Regions from separate parts of the Homo sapiens genome. Here region 1 is linked to region 2. Evidence: fine-mapped expression QTL. A gene starts in region 2. The other region holds a variant in brackets. All regions are shown on one strand. Distances are between the middles of the regions. Region 1 overlaps CHN2 (chimerin 2). Region 2 holds the start of PRR15 (proline rich 15).

What was found.
Region 1: its variant is fine-mapped to the expression of PRR15 in thyroid (GTEx, PIP 0.98).

What each region holds. Positions count from the first base shown.
Region 1 is chr7:29,475,257-29,487,163 of GRCh38, reverse strand. It overlaps CHN2 (chimerin 2), which reads right to left. Exons shown (of 13, transcript NM_004067.4): 7 at 6,808-6,885. Among named protein-coding and RNA genes, the nearest start is that of PRR15-DT, 82 kb to the left of the region's middle. The variant C/G (reference allele first, on the strand shown) is at 6,150.
Region 2 is chr7:29,558,595-29,570,501 of GRCh38, reverse strand. It overlaps PRR15 (proline rich 15), which reads right to left and starts at 6,667. Exons shown (of 2, transcript NM_175887.3): 1 at 6,125-6,667; 2 at 3,209-4,317. The coding sequence starts at 4,172. The coding sequence ends at 3,783. It overlaps PRR15-DT (PRR15 divergent transcript), which reads left to right and starts at 6,811. Exons shown (of 2, transcript NR_183550.1): 1 at 6,811-7,114. RefSeq lists an enhancer at 4,181-5,044.

The DNA.
Region 1 (11,907 bases), 83 kb after region 2:
TCAATTTGCAGGTGCAATATCCAGCCATCCCTGTTCTCCAGGCACAGAAGTAGCATCAGATGGACAGAAAAGGGTGATAGACACCTGGGAGCTTGATAAGAAGGCAAGGCAGACAAAATGCTGGGAATGACACGAAGGGCTGACACACTTTTATGAGGTCAAGGGGGAAGAGGAAGAGAGAGGGGCTTGCATGCGGGAAGCAAAAAGTCTTCTTCCAAAGCAAATGACCACTAGACTGAGAAGAATGCAAAAATGAATGAAAGGCCTAGAAATCATCAAGGAGCCTCAAATCCAAACTGGGAGGTGGTGGTGCTGCCACGTCCTGGACAGGTGTTTTAGTGGGAGCGTGGGGACATATTCTTAGCTTCTTGAACTTCTAGTCCTGGCCTCCAGGATAGCACGGGGTGGGGGTTGCATGTTGAGAAGGAGCATGCTACAAGAGCACACGCGATGGGGTGTGCCATGGGAACGGGGTGCTCCTGGTGCATCCTCAGTCTGTCAGCAGAGTGGGGGACATATAAGAGTAAGTAGGGCAACCATTTCCCCTACGTCCTGATGGGATGCTTTTGAAAGGCGCCACACAGGACAGCTGTAGTGAACTGGGACAGATCCCTCCTCCCCCTTACCCGCCCGCTCCCATGGATCAGACACGGGGTAGCACTGCACAGTCACCATCCCTGGCAAATGGGGATTGAGAGCTGGCCCGACACATCCTGATAGGGCCTCCATCTCTCCTGCGCCATCTGATGACCCTGGCAAGGGCCCACTCCGTGGAAGGACTCTAGTACAATGAACACAGGTGCATACAACACACAAGCCGCACAAGAGGGCAAACTGCAGGGCAGGGAGTGAGGAGAGGGCTCCGAAAGCTCAACTGTAGGGAGATACGGTCCCCTGCTTTCTGCCAACGTGAATGAACAGCTTGTGGGCCAGGACTTGTTCTAGACACTGGGGTTTCTGCAGTCAATAAAACAGACAAAAATCCCCACTCCACGAACCCTCTCTCCCCACCCCCTCCCATCGGGAGTTTCCCTCTGGTAAGGGGAAGGCAGGCAAACACACACATAAATATGTACGATGTCAGCTGGTGATCAGCGCTAGGGAGAAAAGGGAAGCTGGTACAGGCTGGGCAGGAGGTGGAAGGGGGGTGGAAAGGGAGTGGGGAACACACAGTGAGGGGGGTTAGAACTTTCTGGGCCTCTGCTCTCCATCCATATTCCATATCGGGAAGAAGGAAGGGTATCCTGGAAGTGCATGGGGGTGGGAGAGAATTTGGCAGGAAAGAGTGATGCAGATCCCCATGCAGACTGGAGAGGCTGGGAACAGAAGCAGCAGGCTGAGTGGGGGAAGGGCCTGCTCAGGAGACTCTGATGGCTCCAGGGCCCAGGAATCATCATCTTTCCACCATCTGGCCCACCCCAACTGATGATTTAAATGTGATGGACTCCTTTCTGTCCCCGAGGTCTCTCCCCTGCACCTTATTCGCTCCTGGCACATTTCTGACTCCAAGTTCTCACTCCTGTTGTTTGCATAGCCCGGGTGCTCTTTCTTTCCCCTGTATAACCATCCTTGATCTATTTATCTACTTGGGCTTCAGCCAACTTTCCACCTACCCACGAGGATTCTTGGTTAAGGCTGAGAGAACAACCACACTGTCTCTTACACAGGATCTCCAGCACTAGGGAGCCCCCTCCTCTTTGAATGCTCACAGAAGCTTGTCTTTTACTCCTGTTTTTTTATACATCACCACAGGGTCAGCTTCAGGGCGCATGTGACCTGCGCTGTTGCACAGAGCCCTGTCCTTAGCATGGTTTAATGTGCTGCTGTCATAGTTTTGAAAGTCTCAATTTTTTTTTTTAACAAGAACCTCATATTTTCATTTTATACTAGGTCTCACACATTACCTGCCCAGTCCTGCATAATCAATCACACATATTAGTGTGAACTAATAGCTACATCATAAATTTGATTATAAAGTATAACACATACTCTGAATATGAACCAGCTACAGCAAATAGACACTTTCAACTTGCTACTAAAAATGGAAGCTCACCAGCTATTTTAAAGTTTTTTTGGTGCCTCTTTTAATGAAGAAATGCTTGGTAAAGATAAGAGACAAAGAATAACTAAGTTTCACCACTTTCTATCAGAGCAATGAAGCACTGATAAGAAAAATCCATGAAAACTTTTCTTTACAGATGTTAAAATCAATAGCCATGGAAATCAGCAGTTATGCCTGGACCAAGGGGTTGACACTTAGGAGCAATTAGATTACATCTAAAGACCTTTTTTCATGGACATAAAAATCTTTAATGAAACTGTAAACTTTAACATTACTGACAATGCATCCTTTAGGGTGAGGCTAGAGATCCTTCCTATTGAGGGTTCCTGAAAATGTCAATTACAGTTCCTATAACGGGTTGCATCGTATATCCCCCGAAAGGTGTGCTTCACTCCTAACCCTGGGTCACTGTGCATATGACCTTATTTGGAAATAGGGTCTTTGAAGATATAATTAAGACGACATCATACTGGATTAGTATGGGCCCTAAATCCCATGGCTGGCAACCTTATAAGAAGATGACAGATATACAGAGACATACAGAGAAGGCTATATGAAGATGGAGGCAGAGATTGGAGTGGTGTGTCTACAAGACAAAGAACGCCAAGGACTGCCGCAACCACAAGAAGCTAGGAGAGAGCTGCAGGGCAGTTTCTCTTTCAGAGCCTCCAGAAGGACCCAACCCTGCCCATACCTTGATTTCAGACTTCCCAGCCTTCAAAACCACCAGCAAATAAATCTGTGTTGTTTTAAGCCACCAAGTTTGTGGTCATTTGTTATGACAGCTTTAATAGAAAGTACTTTTTAAAAGCTAGGAGAAAAATGTGTGAAATCTAAATCTAAATCATCTAAGTCATCCATTTACTTTTTAAACAAACGAGGGGTATAAACCAGTATTGGCTACAGGATGGAATACATTCAAGGAAATAACCATCAGGCTTTATTTCATTTTCTCTTACATATAATTAATGAGAGAAGAAGAAAGAGATGGTAGAAAAGAGACAAAAGAAAAAAAGCCATGAAGAAGAGAGGGTAGAAAATAAAAGACTGAAAAAGCTAGATACAAAAATACAAGTGAGAGGCACAAAAAGATAATAATAGATGCTAACATCAAATGAATACTTACTGGGTGCCAGAGACCACGATAAGTGACTCGCATGTATTCTTTAAACCTCCCAACACTCCCATTTTATAGATGAGGGAACTGAGGCAGAGAGAGCTGAGCTCTTTGGAAGAACATGGTGTGGCCAGGAGTACTATGCGGGCTAAAGCTACCTCAGCACTGTGCTAAGTGTGGGCAGGAAGCCGAGCAAGCCGACTGCCGGGCCTCTGGGGTTGGCTGGCCTGAAGATTTTCAGAGCTCAGCCATAAGGTATTATTAGGGTGGACCATTCAAAAGAGAGCTGTTCCAGTTACAGCAGAGTGCCTCCTTAAATCAACTAGATAAACAGAGATGCAGTTATAAAATGAGCTAAATAACCGAGTGGTTTTTCTCTTGACAAACAGTTTTCATTTTAGAGAGGAGTCTGTTAATTTCACCATTCCTCCAACAAATACGTCTCAGTGCCTAGTAGGTACAAGTAACCCTAGGAAATCCAGGCTTTAAATAAGCAAAGATTGCATCAGCACACAGTGTTGAAAAGTATACAATTATTGCATGCGATGAGGTGCCAACTGTCCTTTGGTTCCCAAAGCTTTTGTTCTCAGAGCCGAATTTTACTTTGCTTAGACAAGCTTTGTTTGAGAAGCAAAGGCAGTGACTGTGAGCTTTCTGAGAGAATAGAGCGCAAGGTCCCAACTTAGGGAATGTTGGGGGTTTCTATTCATTCCTCTTGACAAAGTTCCTGGGCAGAGCAAAGGAAAGGGCTTTTTACCTGGGGTAATAGTTCTGACTGGGGCAAACAATCTTGTTATGGGGTAAGAAGAGAAACTCTACTGGCAAATTTGAATGTCAGGTAGGAGGCCTCTAGAAAAAAGTGCAGGCCGGGCGCGGTGGCTCACGCCTGTAATCCTAGCACTTTGGGAGGCCGAGACGGGCGGATCACGAGGTCAGGAGATCGAGACCATCTTGGCTAACACGGTGAAACCCCGTTTCTACTAAAAATACAAAAAATTAGCCGGGTGTGTTGGCGGGCGCCTGTAGTCCCAGCTACTTGGGAGGCTGAGGCAGGAGAATGGCATGAACCCGGGAGGCGGAGCTTGCAGTGAGCCGAGATCGCGCCACTGCACTCCAACCTGGGAGACACAGCGAGACTCCGTCTCAAAAAAAAAAAAAAAAAAAAAAAAAAAAAAAAAAAAAAAAAAGAAAAAAGTGCAGACAGCACCTAGCAAAGCCTATTATCTGATGAGCATGAAAATGTGATTATTTGTTCTTTTTATTGACTGCTTACTATATGCTATGCACATAGTAGCCTCAAATATTAACCCGAATTACAAATCAAGAAGGCTTCTGAATAAAGCCCATTAGAAGTTAATGTAAATAAAAAGCTAATGTAAAATTAAGGTCTGAAACACAAATTCCAAGCAGATGGCAGGGACCTAGGATAAGAATTTTCTTCCTTTAGTTCAGTTCAGTGGCTTGTCCCTAAAAACCTGCCACTGTATTTATAGCCTGAGCCTGCTTTTTGAATGTTCTTCCAAAAACCATGTAAAGTTTCCACCTAGAGTTAGTTGCGGGTGAGGAGTGGGGAGATTGAGGGTGGAAAGGGCAAGGAAGGACAAAGGGGATGCCTCATCTGGCCCCTGCCACTCATTCTTAAGGACAGTGGCACCAACAGTACCATCGAATGCCACAATCAACTGTCACAGCTACTTGAGGTCTGCTAAGTTTCAAAGATGTCTGTTTAAAACATGGAAGAGAAACGCTCCTGTCTGGCTTGTGTACTCCTCTTGAACAGCTTCTCTATTTTGTGCCTTTTCTTCTTTCAAGAGCTGTTAACGGTGAATAGCTTTTGAGTTTTTAAACAAATATTAGAAGAGCTGCTGGTGTTTTCCAGTGATAAGTAATATATTGTGTTAGCAACAGTACTACTTAAAAAATAAGATTTAATTATCTTTTAGTTTTAAAATGTCTTAAGATTAATTTTCCATTCAGGGATCTAACATTAAAAGGACTGAAATTAGTTTTGAAAATATCAACTATGTATATTTGTGTGTTTTTAACACAAGCTCAGACACAGAATATACATGGACAAGCTACTCCATGCAAACATATTATAGTATGGCATAATTCCAATTTCTTAACGCCAAATGAATTGGAATTTTCAAGAGGAAGAAAAAGAATTTACAAGTCCATGAAGATCCATCCTCTCATCACTAGTAGTGTATCCACAGGATGCAAAAAAATCAAGGATTTCTGCTAAAAATCAAAAAAACACTTTCTTAAGGCCAAAAAAAATTAATGAGGATAAAAATGGAAAACAGAGTAAAAAAAAAAAAAAAAACGGGAGGCATTTAATGCTCCAAATTAGACCTGTCAATATTCAGTGACGGGAGAAATATGAAAAGCTTTGGCATAGAAGAGGACCTATGCAATGCAATTCTTCACCCTAATGCTAAGTATGTAGGGCTGTATAATTCCATTCCTCAGTTCAATTATAGCATGCAAATGCCTGAGCTGCTGGCTTTCTAAAAACAGATGCAGGGAAACAGACCAAACTAACACCAATGTATATTTAATAGATGAATATTTGTCCTCAGAAAGGATCGGAAAGCAACAGAATAAAATCAGTTTCCCTCGTCACCTCTGACAAAAGGGTTATCTAATTCCAAGAGTCACTTGGGTTACTGACCCTAAAGGAAACAAGAATTTTTTTAAAAGAAAGCAATTCACATTTTGCTTCTCCTGCCTATTGTTTTCTTCCTGGATCCTCCATCTCCACTCTCCCCAACTTTCAAACTGCCAGCTCACTTTTTGGGGTGAAGCCTCTAACTCTAACCTGTCTCTCCTCCTCTCAACTGCAATTCAAGCTAGACAATTTGGCAGCAGCATCCCTTTCCAGCCCTTCTTGGAAAACACTTGGGCAAAGGAAACAGGCCATAATTTTCTGATGGCAGGCCCCTTCTACAAGTACCAGTCTGAAACGAA[C/G]ATAGCGGTCTTTCCAGTTTATAAATTCACTTGGGAAATTCCACTTAACCCCTCACCAGGTTTCCAGATCTTTTTGTTTGGTCTGGTGAGCAGGATAAAGGCTGTGACCAAGGGTGCCCCCCCTGCTAGCCGTACCCGGAGCACAAATAAAAGCTTCTGGATGGCATCTCCTGTCATTATTTGATTTCACAGGTGTCTACGCATAAAGGAAAGGAGTTAGCATCACTGAAAACAAAAGACAAAACACAAAACGAGAAACAGGCAACTGTTTTCCCTTGCTCGGAGACAGCAATATTCTTTACTGAGTGGAAAAGTACTGCTCAGCTCTCAGCAGAACATCTCTGACTGAGAGAGACTGGGCATGCTCTGTGTTTATTTCACTGGACATGGGAACGTGAAGTGGCAATGGGCCCAATTCTCCAAAACTAAGTCAACATCCAGATAAGGTGTTTCCAGGCATAAGCACTGAGCAGACTGCTTTCTGAGGTCTCCAGTTTGAACTGACAGAAAGCGCAGGTGTTAAGCTTATAGCTAAATGTGGAAAGCAAAGGAATTCATTGTCTCTTGACTTTACAGTCAGAAACCAGACGGAAACTATACACTGTACCTTTCCACCTGCCCTTTTGTAACAGAAGAAGGAATGCAGAGGCTTGCTTACCTTAAAGTTGTGTGTCTTCTCATAATTGAAGTGGTTGTCGTTGTGTGTGAGGGCAGCCCTTCGAACCAGGGAGGAGATCTGTGAACAGGCAAAGAGTTTGAGAGGGGGCCAAAGAAAGCCGCCTTTGACACCCACCTTCACCCCGAAGGCTACGGCCAGCAGTTCTTGGCGTTTCCTGCCCTGCTTAGACTTCCGAACCACAGCACACTTTTTCTCATTTTCCAGCCACAGTTCTTCAGAGAACATAGTGCCTGGATCCCAGCTCTTTCCAGTTTGCTCTGCAGAGCCCAGGAAGCCCTGTGCTGTCAGGATTTTCGAACCGCAGCTTATGTTAGGCGGCAGATTTGAGGCAGCTGGGTCCTGTCTGCAGCAGCCTCCGGCATGTGACCTGAAAGGCCCAGTTTGAGTGATGGAGGGGGCCCGGCTTCTGAATAAGGATGGGCCTGTTTTGTGCTATTTCTTAAGGCCGACGTGCGCCTGGAACAATAGCAAACATTCATGTGCACAGCAACCCCCAGAAGCGGTATCCAGTCAGCCACTGAGGATTCAGGGAGGCAGGGGCCGGCAGCCTGCTTTCTCCTGCCGCAGCACATTGCAAAGGAGAGGTCTCTCCTCCTTATTAGCACATTTCACACTCAAACACACCAGCGCACACACCCCCCAGCCAGCTCTGACGTTCAAAGTCTGAGGCTGCATCCAATTAATCTGGGGCTCTGAACCCCATCCTGGGCTGAGCTCCAACAGATTAAACCTTTAAACCCTGATGACTGTTTAATCTTATAGGGGTAAAGCCTATGTCTCTTTATTAAAAATCTGCCTTAGCACTTGAAAGCTTAATTTTTATTCTTATGCATGCATTACATTGGAACAGTCTGAGCACCAAATGGGATATCAGAGGAGAGCAAAGCTTTTCCACTCTGAGTTCTGCAAAGTTGCAGAATAAGAGGCAGGATGTCTTGCCTCAGGACACTCCCCGGTCTCTCCTGTCCTTCCTGCACGAACAAACTCTGCTCAAACCCACACAGACAAGACAATATTCCTTACCTAAAATCAAAACATCATAATTGCTTTTCTTTTAAATAAAACATCTTCAGTGTTCATTCTGTTAGTGCCCAAGCCTATGAAAATGGCCTCCTTCCTCTTAAAAGCATCATCTGTTTGATGGTCTCCCATGACCCTAATTCTTTGATCCTAGGTCTCCCCATGAAAAGAAGCAGGGAAATCCTGATGTCTTGGGAGTACTCCTGACTCATTGGTGAAGATTAATGCAGCTAATGCCAGACAGTAAAATTAATGCTTTAGGAACTAGAAAACAAGATCTAGATAACTGGGCCTTTATGTAGATGGGCAGTCCTGTCCTCTACTCAAACAAGGGCCCCATGCTGCAGTCCCTCCAAGCAGCCTTGTGAAGAGTAACCAAAGATCACTCCTTCCCATGTGTAATTCTTTATTCCTGGTAAACACCATGATTTTAACTTGGTTCAAAAGTTCATCCTCCCATTTCATCCTCTCATGACCTTCAATAATAACACCCAATTTTTACGTTAAGCTATTGAGCACAATAATTTACGCTGTGTCAGAGGACGTTAGAATGTGTCAAAGGCACTTAACTCATTTAATCTGCAGCATATGGGTGTGAGGAGCAAGATTTTTATTCCCGATTCTTTTGGATGAAGAGAGCAAGGCACTGAGAGGTAAAGCAATTTGCCCAAGGACATGCAGCCTAGTTTAAGTGGCAGAACCAGGGCTAGAACACAAAGCATCTGTGTCCAGCGCCCATGCTCCTCAACACTGTGTCCTGCTGCCTCGGTACACCCATGTGCTGCCTCATCCTGCCATCAGTCCTGACAAATGCTTTATCTCAGATACTGGTTGAGTCTGGCCTCTCCCTACCTTTCTTTCCCCACATAACTCAGACCCTTGTTATCTCTCCAGTCCACCTTACACATCGCTCTACAACAATCTTCCTAATCCACCCATGCTTCTCCATAGCTTAACTGTGTCCTGGCATTGCTGGTTTTTCATGAGCTGATCCTAATGTACCCAGCTCATCCTATTTCCCTACACTCCCCTCCACAAATCCTACAACATCTCTTCTGTGACATACTTAACTGCTAACCTTGGTAGCTTGCTCTGTTCTTTAGAATATTCTAGCATCCTTTCAACATATCTACATTTTCACCAACATTTACATTCTGATTCTAATGCTACCCTTTCCAAAAGGACTTCCCCAGACTCCCCACTGAAGGCCAACTGTGTCCTCTGAAATCCCATAGTGTTTTATCCACATTTTTCTGATTGCACTTGTCACTTTCTGTCTTGTATTATAGTGACTATAACAGCTCTTATCCCTGCCACACTGAGAACTCACTGTGACATGCTCTATGCTTAATTTGCTTTTGTTTCCCCCTACAAAAGTGTCTAATAAGAGTCCTTGCCACAGTAGACACTGAATAAATATAAGTTGCTAGAAAGCACATGTACATATAGGAAGCCAGGGTTGTGGAAGAAGGTGTGCAAAGAGGACTGCATGGTGCGGGGTCTCCAGTCCCTCCTGTGACCACCCATCCACTGCCTCAGCTTCCAAAGACAAGGTTCCCTCCAGGGGTCTACTCTCTTAATGGGCTTCACCAGGCCCCTTGGCCCTTCTTCCCACTGTCCCATTCTGAAGGACAACTGTTATGGCAGGCGTTAAGTGAAGGCTTGGCATACCTTTGCAGGGCTTCCCATCCTTAGTCTACAGGTAAAAAGATGGAGAGAAGCAAAAAGGGTCCTTTCCCAACCTTCACTGCTAGCAAAGCGAGAGAGACCTTTTGATGGTGAGCCATTTGTGTAAGGGCAAATTCTGTGATGTGGACTGGACTAATGACATGAATATACCATTTTTAGAATCTGATCAAATAACTATTTACATGGAAAGTGGCCAAAAGAATCTCCTCCTTTTGGTCTATGGATGGTTGAATACAATGAGATTTAATATTTTTTCATGTCTGTGCTTGTATGTATAACAAGTAATTTTTATTTCCATTTGTGACAGTGATTTCTTTTTCAGCTATTGATTCAATAGAATTTACCCAAACACAAGACACATTCAGACAAGTGAAGGAACCAACACTATTCCCTTAGGATGCTTCTTTACAGGGGACTAGAAGTGTTAGCCTTTGAGCGAGCATTACTGGGAGCAGTGTGGGTGACCTCAGATCACCCTCTTATTAAGGGAAAACTGATTACAGTAATCTCTTGGCGAAAACTTCTCTCTGAAATAACCCCATCACACAGAGCTCTTTTTTATCTCAGCTCCTCAAGGACAGCTCCTTGCCTTATTTTATATGCTCCGTAATGTCTAATATAGTGTTCTCTATACACAAGGGACATTTAATACATTTGCTGACCGTCTTCTTCTAATGAAAATTTCTACCTGACCTATTTTAATATATACATTCATGAGATGAAGCACATTTCCCTACATGCTCTGTTTGAACCAGGGATTCTCACTGGAACGAATGGTCTTTTGGGCCAGATAATCTTTTGTTGTGGGAGGCTGTCCTGTACGTTGCAGGATGTTCAGTGGCATTCTTTGCCTGTATTCACTAGATGCCAGTAGAGCCCCTCCCCCTAAGTATGTAATAAAAAATGTCTCCAGACATGGCCAAATATTCCCTGGGAAGCAACGCTGTCTCCAGTTGAGAATACTGGGCTAAATTAATAACACAAATATTAATATTTATATCATGCTTACTATGTGCCAAGTGTTATACTCAGCGCTTTGCATATATATGTGTATTTTTTTTTTTTAATTTTTATTGGTGGTTTTTTTTTTGAGACGGACTCTCGCTCTGTCATCCAGGCTGGAGTGCAATGGCGCGATCTCGGCTCACTGCAACCTCTGCCTCCCGGGTTCAAGTGATTCTCTTGCGTCAGACTCCCAAGTACCTGGGACTATAGGCACGTGCCACTGTGCCTGGCAAATTTTTGTATTTTTAGTAGAGATGGGGTTTCACCATGTTGGCCAGGCTGGTTTCAAACTCCTGACCTCAGGTGATCCACCCACCTTGTTCTCCCAAAGTGCTAGGATTACAAGTGTGAGCCATGGCACCCGGCCCACTTTGCATATTTTGACTCATTTAAGATTTAAAACCCTACGAGGTAGGTACTGTTATAATTACCCTTATTTTACAGATAAGGAAATGGAAGCTGAGAGTTTAAGTGACTTGCCCATGGCCACATAGCTGGTAAGTGGTAGAATATAGGCACAACTAACTGAGCCTATCTTTCCTCAAAGCCCTGAAGAACAAGTGTCTTTCCTTCTACTACACTTAACATAAAATTTACCATTTTAACCATTTAAAAATGTAAAATCCAATGGCATTTAATGCATTTACAATGTTCTGCAACAATCACCACTACCTAGTTCCAGAATATTTCATCACCCCAAAATGAAACCCTGTACCCATCAGTACCACTGCTCATTCTCTTCTCCTCCCAACCTCTGGCAAACACCAATCTGCTTTCTGTCTCTATGAATTTGCCTATTCTGGATATTTTGTATAAAGGGAATCGTACAATATATGGGTTTTGATATCTGGCTGCTTCTTTTTTCTTTAGATATTTCACTTAGCATGTTTCAAGGTGCATTTATGCTGTGGCATGTATCAGTACTTCATTCCTTTTTGTTGCTGAATAACAATCCATTGTATGGATATACCACACTTCATTTCCATTTATCAGTTGATGGACATTTAGACTGTTTTCACCTTTTGGCTAATTGTGAACCATGCTACTAAGAATATCCTCATACAAGTTTTGTTTGAACGCTTGTTTTCAATTCTTTTGGGTATACACTAAATCTATGCTTTTAAATATTGTTTAAACAGTCTCTCATCCCCATAATACTTACATTAAAAAATATGCAGTGGTTGAATGCTTGAATTACTCTCTTCCCCATTATAGTCTGTCAACGACTAGCAGGTCTGGTGTTCCCTGAACTGGTTTTTAAATAGGAGACTTTAGTTCTCCCTGAGCCCACTGTGAAAGCAGGTACCACTTAAGATACTTCTGGAAGTAGGTGGGGCTATAAATAAATGGTGACATAAGCTCACC
Region 2 (11,907 bases):
CGACCTCTGGGGCTTAAGCAATTCTCCCACCTTAGTCTCCCAAAGTGCTAAGATTACAGGTGTGAGCCATCACACCTAGCCTTAGTCTATGGTATTTACATGTTGACATCCAAATGTATAAAATATCTCTGGTCCCACTTTTTACTTGTCATGGAGGTAAACATGAATCTATCTCAACAAACAATCTTCCACATTTATGTTATAATGAAACCCTCTAAAAATAAAATAGACTTGGAAAAATCCATTTTCCTTACTATATCATGCTAGCTTTTTGTGTGCTTGTTTCTAGTCGATTGACACTTCTCAGCTGGGGAAAAAGAATATTCTTTCTCTCTTTTTTCATAAAACGTCTCTTGGGGTCACTGAATATGTGTCCTTTCACTTATTTCTTTCAAGTTTACCTTTCATTTGAAATTCTGTCTGCTCATTTTTAGTATTTGCTTCTTTCAAGGCACCCAAATATTCTTCTGCGCATCTCAGGAAAAGCACTATTTTTGACAAAGCTTTTAGCCAATGCTCATTAGGTTTCTATTTCCCTTCTAAGGACTTGGCAGGACTAGAATTGCTGAGTTCACATAATGTTTCGAAGCAGAAAAAATATTTCCAGGTGTTATACTAAAGGAGAACATCCTAATTGCATATGTAAAGTCGGGTTTGTGCTTTTGAAATGCAAGTCAGAATGTGCTGAACAATAGAAGTACAGACACAAAGGGACGTTCAGGTGACCTGTAATATGAGTCACTGCCCAGCCACCGATTTTGCAAGGAGAGTCACTGGGGCAAAAACTACCCTTTGTATATAATTATCGTGGTTACAAAAGTGTGTAGCAAATACACTGCTAGAGTTTTGTTCCTTTTTTTCCCATATCTTTGGAAGTATAGTGTTAAAATTTCTGATATGGCTTCCAAATTTGTGAGTGAAATTTCATTTGTAAGATAATTTAAAGAAAAGTTTCTGACTGCAAATTTAATTCAGCATTTTTTTTTACTATAAATTATCTCAAGGTTAAAAAAAATTAAATCTGTATATACTATTGGAATGTAATTAAACATCTGTAAAGCACATAAATCCCAGCAAGACACGTCGTCAAATTCTCTCATCTTCCTTATGCTCTTTCTGTCCCACCAATTTTGCTTGGTTTCTGATTTCACTGAGTTGGGATTAAATCAGTGTATTCCTCCCACTGCATAATTTAGGACTGCTTTAAAACGATGTAATTACAAACCTCAATGGCAGATTGTGAATTGCATTCACTGTCATAACTGCATTAGTATGGTTTTAAATTCTTTCAGAACAGTGGGGTAAAGATGTCATGTTAATATGGTAATAAGTTCCATTGCTCTACTATATGTCTGCTATTGATTATCTGCAGCAATTGTAGATTTGGATGGGATCCAAAATTAGACACAGAACCTTGAAACTTGCCAATGTTTTGTTCATCTACAGTAATTTTAAAGAAAAAAGTTCTTTAAAACAATAAAACTGGATGAAAGGGTTAGTATAGGATTTTAAACTTATGTAATTGCAGACTTAATTTTATAAATAGGTACAGTCCTGATCTATCGGTCTTCCTGAAGGAGGGAGAGAACATTTTGGGTAGTTACCTACTCTAATTTTGATTACTTTCTACGGAGTGAAATTGAAATACTTTTTGAAGGTTTTCCAAAGCCTTATTTGACAACATTTGCTATATTCACTCCCGTTGCTCTGCCAACCCCCAATCCTGTCCCTTATCATGAATTCTTTTTTCATGCCAAGTCTCAATTCCCTCTTCTTTTTCTGAATCTAGAGATGGTAGGCCCATTTAAACTGAATGTAGTCTGCCTCATCCAGGAAGCCCACCTGGATGAGATTTTGGTCACACACTTTCCAGTTTTACGTATACAATGAAAATGTCTTTTCATGCTTAAAAAAGTCCTCTCACATACTTTCTTTTAATTTAAGGTGTTCATAACCTCTAGATATACACTTTCCTTTAGTGTAAGGCCTTTGGTATGTGGAAACTCATGTATCAAAATTAGCTGTATTATTCTGCTGGCACCAAAGCTTGATTCATTAATTTAAATTCATTTCAGCCATCTTCATCAAATTTCTTTGTTAAATTTCTTTTAACAATCGAACTGTTTTGCTACTTTATAAATTACTAATTTGGGAGAAACAAAAAAATAGCTTGTCTACATATACAAATCGAGAAGCTATAATTAAGTTCCTGCTTGTCATTATCTACAAAGATATACACTTTGATCAATATAATTTTCCTGCCATGCATTTCTGGGTGTTTATAAATGAACTGAATTGTGGTGGGAAAAGATCCCAGTGCCTCTTAACGACTACAATAACTCTCTTGTAATTTTCTCAAAGCAAATGGTATTCGTTTACTCTTTTTCTTGAAGTTCATAATAAAAGCGAACAGCTTTTTGTTAAGAATCTTCAGGTTGTTAGATCTAAAGGGTCTGAAACTAGATAAATGCATACTTTAAGGAAATAAGCTTTTAAAGCAAAGGGGTGGGGAAAATACCCCCACCTCTTTAGCTGCGCAGAGTTCAGTCTTTTTTTTTTTTGAGATGGAGTCTCCTTCAGATGCCCAGGCTGGAGTGCAGTGGCACGATCTCTGCTCACTGCAACTTCTGTCTCCCAGGTTCAAGCAATTCTCCTGTCTCAGCCTCCCGAGTAGCTGGGACTACAGGTGCCTGCCACCACGCCCGGCTAATTTTTGTATTTTTAGTAGCGACAGGGTTTCACCTTTTTGGTCAGGCTGGTCTTGAACTCCTGACCTCAGGTGATCCACCTTCCTAGGCCTCCCAAAGTGCTGGCATTACAGACATCAGCCACCGTACCTGGCCTTGTTTTTTGATTTTAGACAATCGTTAGTAAGTTTAACAATGGATACTGAAAAGGATGTATTACTAGCATTGTAACTTACTATAGTCTATGAAAATGCACTGAAGTAAAAGGTGAATTTAGGAATAATGAATTGGTACCTCTCTCCCTTCCTCGAATTTGGCTGATAAATAGGGATATCTGGCTAACAAGTTCCAGTCCAGGTGTTGCTGGTTTCCAGAAATATTCTCTTCCCTGCAGCTTTCCACTAGTCACTGTTATGTTGTGTGGCAAATGATTAACTCTCACCTCGGACTTTGCCTGCCTGCTTTTAAGTATGATGGGATTCAGTCTTGGAATGGAAAAAATACAAAAGTCACCTTAAGCCTTACAGTGCAAGGGTTTTAATAGTCCACACTAAAATAGGCTGTACAGTTTTGTAGTTTAACATTAAAAGCAATCCTGCCTTATTTTAAAATGCTTCTACTTAAGAATGCTTCTTCCTCCCCCACTCCTTCACTTAAGGTATAAGTCTACCCCTAAAGTGCATTTCTCAGGCATTAAAAACAGCACTGTGATTTGCTTTCCACAGAGTCCTAAATAACAGCCACCTTCTTCATTTGAGAGGCTACAGAGTTCAAGCTGAGCTGTGACAGGAGCCAGGGGGCCAGGGCCCCAGAATAGCTTTTTGAAAAAAAAATAATTATGCCACCCTCCTCCGCGGCAGGTATCTTCTCTTACCACAAATAAATATTTAATGCATCCTTGGAGTCATGAAATATTGAGAACCCAATTGACACTTCAATTTCCAGAAAAATAAAATCATGAAGGCATTGTGTAAATATTCTGAATTTGGTGGAATGAGACAACGCGTAAGGGGGCGGGCCTGAAGTCTCGGGTTTGGAACTGGGGGTTTGGGGTAGTGCTGGGTAGGCAGTCCTGGAGCGCGCAGGCTATTGGGGCTACTGCTTGTCCTCGTGGGGGTCACCAGGAAAGCCTGCCTCCTCCGGGGACCTGCCCGCCTCCGGGAGCAGCGTGGCGCGCACTTTCCTCTTCTCCTTAAAGCGGCCGGAGCGCGAGATCTTCAAATTGCGGCGGCTGCTGCCGGATTTGTCCCCGTATAACTTGTCTGGTTTGGGGGGCTCGCCGGCGCCCCCGAGGAGATTGGGGTGCTGGTTCTCCCGGGAGCTGCTGGTCCAGTCCGGGCTGGGCGGCGCAGGTGGCGTGGGCTCCCCGGGAGCGGGCTGGGCGGGAGGCGGCACCCCCACTGCGGCTTCCTTGCTTTTCTTTCTGCTGTTGGTGAGCGATTTCCACCAGGGGCCGGAGCTGCCAGCATCGCCGCTGTCGGCCATGGCCGGAGGGCCTAGGGGCTCCCGGCACCCAGATGGAAGGGCCAAAGCGGCCCCTTTCTCCACGTGGTCTCCGGCCGTTCACTCCACCCCTTCCCCGGCTTGCCACACGTGGGCTGCGGGGTGGATGCTGAGGCAGCGGCCTGTGCTGGGGAAGAAAACAAAACTTGGTTACTGGGTTGGTTGAAGTCACGTGCCCCCCCCAGTCCCCTTTCCTCCCTTATGCTGTCTGGCACCGGATCGGCCAGGGTCGGAGCGACCCAATCCCGTAGCTACGTAGCCCACATTAGCATTAGACGCCACTGCGCCCCATAGGGTGCTGGCGGAAGTGTCTTCCAGGGCACCATCACCTGGTCTCTAGGCTGAGCCTTGAACTCTTTGGCTTCAACCTTTGCCTTTCCTTCAGGGGAAGTGCAGTGCAGTGGTCAGCGTGCCCGGGGGACCCAAGGGACGTTCCCACCCCTCTGAATCAACCCGTCTCTAGAGGGAAAATGACCGCCCTGTCCACACTGCTTGACTGTAGATGGACGCCAAAAGGTGACCCATCCGACCCAGGGCGGCCTCCCTTTGGATAAGCACCTGGGAGGAGGGCGCTGGGAACCAAGTGCATCCTCTCTACAGGTGAACGGTATTAATTAGTCCATGGTCAAACAGTCACGAAATTTCCCTCCAAGATTTGCCCCCATCGACTTTCGTCCCAGGAGCCTTTTCGATGAGATACTTAGGAGAATTTATATCCCAGTAGGAGAGAAGGACAAGCTTATGATATTTGTTTTGGTTCTTTTAAATTCTACTTTTGACCACTTCTGCCTTGTGACTTTCAAAGAAGCATGTCTAGACTTAACTTCCCTTGAAAACCGCCATCCTAATTCTTCCTTTTACTCCCCAGAGCCCAATCTTGCGTCTGTTTGAAGTCACCCCCGGCTGACGGTTGAGATGAAGCCAAGTATCAAATGGCCTCTTCCCTTAGTTTTGTATTAAAATATGCACCGAGTCTGTACGACGCAACTCAACTCTGGAGAATTTCAGTTACAAAGTAAAGGCTTCTCTTCTTTTCCTTGTGCAATTCCCTCCTCCCAAGGAGAAAGAACGCAACAAGGAACTCCGAAACAATGTGCTTCTTCCCCAAGCTTCTAAGACCCCCCCTCTGCAGAGCGAAAGGCCGCTTCTGAGCACTTAGGTGCGGGTACAGCAAGCGAGACTCCCAGCCCACTTTCTGTGCGGGGTCTCTTGGGCGCTGCCACCAGCAACGGCAGGATTCGCCTGCGCCGCGGCTCACTTCCAGGTTTCCGCTCGGCTCCTTCCCAGCCCACGCGCCGGGCGCTCCTGGGATTGGCGATCGCGCTGGAGAGGGAAACTTCGGCGGTGTTTGTTGTAGGAGGTTCTCCTCCCGGAACCGCCAGGGAGAGGAAGTCTGATCGCCTACGGGAGGCGGCGGGGCGGCCTCGGCTGCGCCCCGAAACCGCAACACCGGCTCCTCCCCAGGATGCCCTGAGGACACACTCGGGCAGCGACTTGAAAACAATACAAGAAAAAACGGCCAAAAGTTCTTTCGGTACAAAAGGCACCCACGCCCTCAGGCACAATTAGCAACTGCGTCTGCAAACATCCCATTCCCTCCTACTTTGCAGATCGGAAAAGCAACCCGTACCCCCAAGTCATTTACTAACAGTGGTGGTAAGGTGTCCTGATGCTGCTTCCTCTCCTCTAACCTACATTTTCTTCTTCACAATCATCAACTTTGTGAGCACGGAAGGGCTTTGTACGAATTGCGCAAGGAAAAGATGGCAAATTACTCAAAAGTACAGAAAACGGAGTCCTGGAGCGTCCGTGGTTTTCAGCCTCTCTTAGGGCTCCGGGAGGCGGGTACCTGGGAGGTACCAGGCAGCACCCCAGGGTGACCCCCGGGGCCAGGCTCTGTCTCGGCGGACGCCGAACCACCCCCAGTCGCTCACCTGCTCGGGCTTAACAGGACCCGGAGGCCTCGCGCGGTGAACGCGGCCGAGAGCACGAAGGGGGCGCGCTCGGGTCAACCTGGAAGCCGGGGCTCGAGTCCCTGGGCGCGGACTTGGAGAGATCAGGCTTCTGGAAAGTGTACAGGTCGGAATTCCCGCAGCCCAGCTAAATCAAGTGCTGCTGCTGGTCTCCTCTGGCACCTCCAATTGCTGCGCGCTGCGGCGGAAGCCCGGGGCTCGCAGCGCAGTCTGTTCTGGTCGGAGGGGGCGGCGGCGAGGGGCCGCCAGACTCGCTGCCCGGGTGGAAGGTCCAGGGCGGCTTTCCGGGCTAGTAGTGTTTCATTCGCCGGCGCGTCCCTCTTCCCTGCTAGCACCGCCCGGGAGCCGGCTGAGAGATGGGACCCTGGCTGTTCACTCCGGCGCATCGAACTTGCCTACGCGTCCGTAGGAACGCAAAAAAGACATCTGCCCACCTGCTGGTTATTTGCCAAGTGATTCGGGAAACCAGAACCCTGGGGCAGCTGGGGGAGAAAAGAAAATAACCCAGGAGGCGGTCACCGCTGCCACAGGTGCAGGTAGGAACTTCGCGTTCCCACCCTCCAGGGGAGGAGATTGGATCAGGCGCCAGCCTTGAGGTGTCTGATTGGAGAAAAGCTGTGCAGTGCCGCTCCCCCGACCGACTCCTTGAGAAGAAACGGCGGAGACCTGAGACCCGGAGGCTGAGGCTGTAGGTGGGCTCCGCTGGGTAAAAGTTGCCGCAGCAGCTGTCCCTTGGCCCCATCGCGATTTATTTTTCCCCCTTGCTTTCCGGGTCCCGGGATCCCAAGTTTGTAACTAACGGGAGCGAATCCACACCCGAGCAAAATGTTTGCGAGTTTCAGGCGCCCTTAGTTGAAAGGCTGTAATTAACAAGTCCGCTGTTTGCCAGCCAGGCGCCGTTGCAGGCGCTTTCTGTGGATTGTCATTTATTTCTCACAGCAACCCTAGGAGGTAGGTATTGTTATTATTATTATTCTCACTCGACAGGCGAGGAAACCCTAGCACGGGAAAATGGTTGCTCAGGTTTGCCTGTCTGGTACGTGGCAGAGCAGGGTTGGAACCCAGGGGGCCTGACTCTAGCTTCTACGGTCTTAACCACCACAACCTGCCAGTCTGAGACTCTTAACACGACTCAGTGAGGATGTGAATTTCCTTCTTTCAGGCCTGGAAGTCCATGGACAGCCACCCAACGAGGGCAGTGTAAATCCAGCCCTGAGCCACTGCAGGAAGTGAACCGGGGATTGCACTCCTGGTCACATAAGAGTACTTTTTTTTTTTTTTTTTTTTTGAGACGGAGTCTCGCTCAGTCGCCGAGGCTGGACTGCAGTGGCGCGATCTCGGCTCACGGCAAGCTCCGCCTCCCGGGTTCACGCCATTCTCCTGCCTCAGCCTCCCGAGTAGCTGGGACTACAGGCGCCCGCCACTGCGCCCGGCTAATTTTTTGTATTTTCAGTAGAGACGGGGTTCCCCGTGTTAGCCAGGATAGTCTCGATCTCCTGACCTCGTGATACGCCCGTCTCGGCCTCCCTCCCAAAGTGCTGGGATTACAGGCGTGAGCCACAGCGCCCGGCCAAGAGTACTTTTTATTCATTTGACATAAAGATATTGGCACAGGGCATTTTCACTAATGAAGGCAGAGGTGCAGCTTGCTTCATCTTCCAGGATGCTCTTGTTTCAAAAAACGATTTTGATGTTCCTTGAGCTCATATGCAAGCATAACTCCCCTGAAGGACTGGGTGTGGAGCAACTGAGCATCTCTGTTGTGAAAACTGTTTGCAGTATAAAAGCAGTGAAAGACAGCCGGGCAAGATGGCTCAAGCCTGTAACCCTAGCGCTTTGGAGGCCGAGGCGGGTGGATCACATGAGACCAGGAGTTTGAGACCAGCCTGGCCAACATGACAAAACCTTGTCTCTACTTAAAAATAATAATAAAAAACAAGGTGGGTGTAGTGGTGCACGCCTGTATTCCCAGCTATTGGGGAGGCTGAGGCACAAGAATCATTTGAACCTGGGAGGTGGAGGTGGCAGTGAGCTGAGATCCGGCCACTGCACTCCAGCCTGGGTGACAGAGTGAGACTCTGTCTGTAAAAAAAAAAAAAAAAAAAAAAAGTAGTGAAAGACATACTGCCTAACTCAAATAATTTGCAATATAGAATTAGTAGAAAAAATTTTTAGAGAGTATTTCAATTTGTGAAAGATAAAAATATGAATATATGATTTACTTTTTAGTTTGGGATTCTTTGAATTTCTATGATATGCACAGCACAGGGTATTTGGAAGTCATGCATTTTTATATATTTCTCGGGATTACTTTTAGAGCATAAACTTTCAATCACAGAAGCAGGATTGAACAAAGGCAGGCCACCAACTTTGAGGGGAGAATGGGATAATTCATCATAGTGCCATTACTTTACAGATGAAATTGAATCATGGAAGAATGCCTTTATCTGAGGAGTCATCACCACTAGGGAGCTATGGAGGTGGGTTTTTACGTTGTTGGTTGAGCATATGGGTGAAAATAAAAAATTCAGGAAAAGAAAATAAGTTCTGCCAACTGGCTCCTCAAGTGTGATTTTAACAAAATGGTCAACATTTTACTAATAAGCAAACCTCTACTAACTGCTGAAATTAACAAAAAAAAAAGATTATTTTGCATGCCCTTTCTCATTTATATTCAGCAACTTTGAACTTAATAACAACATCTTACAAATAACCCTTGTGTACGGGGAGGACATTGAAGGAGAGACATGAAAACTGAGGAGAGATTAGCTGAGATGCAGAGTGGGTGAGCATTTCAGATGGAGGAAGTAGCGTGTGAACAACTTGGAGGTGTGAAGAAATTGAGGTTTCTTGAGAGGCAAAGAGCAGGCGCATGTGATCTGAGTGAGGAGAGGGAGCTGAAGCTGGAGAGGTGGGTGTGACCAGAACATTCAGGACCACAACCCACTAAAGAGGAAGAACATGGTAAGATTCGCAGTTAAATGTTGTGCAGTGGTGTATAAAGAATGAATGGGGCTGGGCGCGATGGCTCATGCCTGTAATCTCAGCACTTTGGGAGGCCGAGGCAGGTGAATCACGAGGTCAAGAGATTCAGACCATCCTAGCCAACATGGTGAAACTCTGTCTCTACTAAAAATACAAAAATTAGCTGGGTGTGGTGGCGTCCTTCTGTAGTCCCAGCTACTCAGGAGGCTGAGGCAGGAGAATCGCTTGAACCCGGGAGGTGGAGGTTGCAGTGAGCCGAGATCGCGCCACTGCACTCCAAGCCTGGTGACAGAGTGAGGCTCCATCTCAAAAAAGAATGGGCCAGGCGCAGCAGCTCACATCTGTAATCCCAGCACTTTGGGAGGCTGAAGTGGGAGGATTGCTTGAGCCCAGGTATTTGAGACCCGCCTGGGCAACATGGGGAAACCCCCATCTCTACAAAAAAAACAGAAGAAATTAGCTAGGTGTTGTGGTGTGAGCCCGTAGTCCCAGGTGCTTAGGTGGTGAGGTGGAAGGATCACTTGGGCCCAGGAGTTCCAGGCTGCAGTGAGCTATGATTGCACCACTGCACTCCAGCCTGGGCAACAGAGAAAGACTTAAAAAAAAAAAAAAAGTGGATGGTAGAGGGGACAAAATGGGGCAATCAGGATACCAGTTAGGAACTGTTGGGAGACTTTAGGTGGGATATTCTGAAGCCTGTAGTACAGTGGTGGGAGTTGATTTGGTGGGGGATGAAGATAATTAGGTGGATGCAACAGGAATGTTGGAGATAGAATCAACAGGGCACTATTTCATTTAATTCCTACAAATAAGGAGATTGAGTTTGACTAGAAGCTGAGAAGGGAAATACTTTCACAGCCTTCCCTGTGACTAGGAGTGGCCATAGTGATTCAGTTTTGGCCTATGGGGCTATAAGGAAGACTTCTGGAAATGCTTCTTTTCCAGATAAAGGACAGAACCTCCTGAGAGAACATCTTTTGCCACACCCTTGATGCTTGCATTTAAGCACAGCATGAGGATGTGACGTCTGGTGTGACAGCAGCCAGTGAGGCAGCAGGGATGGGAATAGGACACGTCATGCTAAGGATGATGGCATGGGAGTGTGGAAGTGTCTAGGTCCTCGATTACACCATCCATTCCCTGAAGGAACCCTGGAACCACCTACCTGTGGACTTTTAGTTCAGTGAGATCGTACATATCCCTGTGGTTTAACCACAGATTTAAACACAGTTTTCTGTTACTTGTAGCCAAACCCATTCCTACTTGGTAAGGACTATTTTAGTTAGAGGAAGAGACGATATTGTCCAAAAGGGAAAAAAGCTAATATTGCCACATTTTTTTGGACTAATATGAAAAGTTCTTCCCAGAAGGAGGATTTAGTGAAATGTTAAAGTGATGGGCAAGTTTTTAGAGGCAGAGAATGCATCTGTAAAATTTTGAGTTAAGGGAATGGGTAGATAAAACATATGTATAGTGCATGGATAAGTAAACTGGGGGTAAGACCAAAAGGTGAGGTTCATCAGATTATCTGAGATATCAGTGTAATTTGACTTTTAAAGACAGTGTTAAACAATTAAGACTTATTTTTCTCCATTTTTGCATCTAGAACTGTTTTAATCTCTCCCCACCAAGACACACACACACACACAAATGGTTAGTATTACAAGTATAGTTGTGTTCTGTAACTATTGATCTGGGAATCATATTGTTTGGTTCTACAAGGAGGACATGGTCTGGCCCTACAGCTCTGTATTGTTAAGCTAGACATCTTACATGATAGATGCATTTAAAAGTTGATTCATCTATTTAGTTAATAGTAGATGACTTTTAATGTTACAATATTGACATATGCTTTAACTGGACAATGCTTACATTTCTTAATTTATCTTGTCATTATTTTTCAAAAATGCATTGATGATTTGGGTGAGGACACATTTTTTCTTTTTCTTTTAAAAAATTAGCACCAGGCCTGGTGGCTCATGCCTGTAATCCCAGCACTTTGGGAGGCCGAGGCAGGCAGATCACCTGAGGTCGGAAGTTCAGGACCAGCCTGACCAACATGGAGAAACCCTGTCTCTACTAAAAATACAAAATTAGCCGGGTGTGGTGGTGCATGCCTGTAATCCCAGCTACTTGGGAGGCTGAGGCAGGAGAATCACTTGAACCTGGGAGGCGGAGGTTGTGGTGAGCCAAGATCACGCCATTGCATGCCAGCCTGGGCAACAAGAGAAAAACTCCATCTCAAAAAAAAAATTGCTTCTTTTAAAAAATTAAATTGAACCTTTAAGTGCAATAAATATTTATACTCAAAGACAATAGAGAAGGAATTATTAGAGGACAAGCATTGCACTAGCAATTAAAATCAGATTTTTACAGGTTAACATGGCATCTGCTCTCTTAGCAAATCTGGCATTGAATGGTAGGTTGAGAAATGTATTATCTTCCTTTGAAGCATCTGTATTGGGAACTAGGCAAAGAGAAAAACAAGATGAGAAATTTAAAGAAATATAGAAATCTAGCTAATCAAAATGAAGAAAATAAGAATCACCTATGTTCTTTTCATTCAGGGATGAGCCTGGTTAATGTTTTGGTGTTAGTCCTTTTGAGCTTTTTGCCACTTGTTTTCATGTTTACTCTTTTCATTTTTTCCTTTCCCTCCCTTTCTTCATTCCTTTCTTCTATGGACTCCTCCAGCTTTTGGAAATTACGCATGTATCTCTCCTGTCCTTTTTCTTTATAGTCATCAATGTATGAGTACT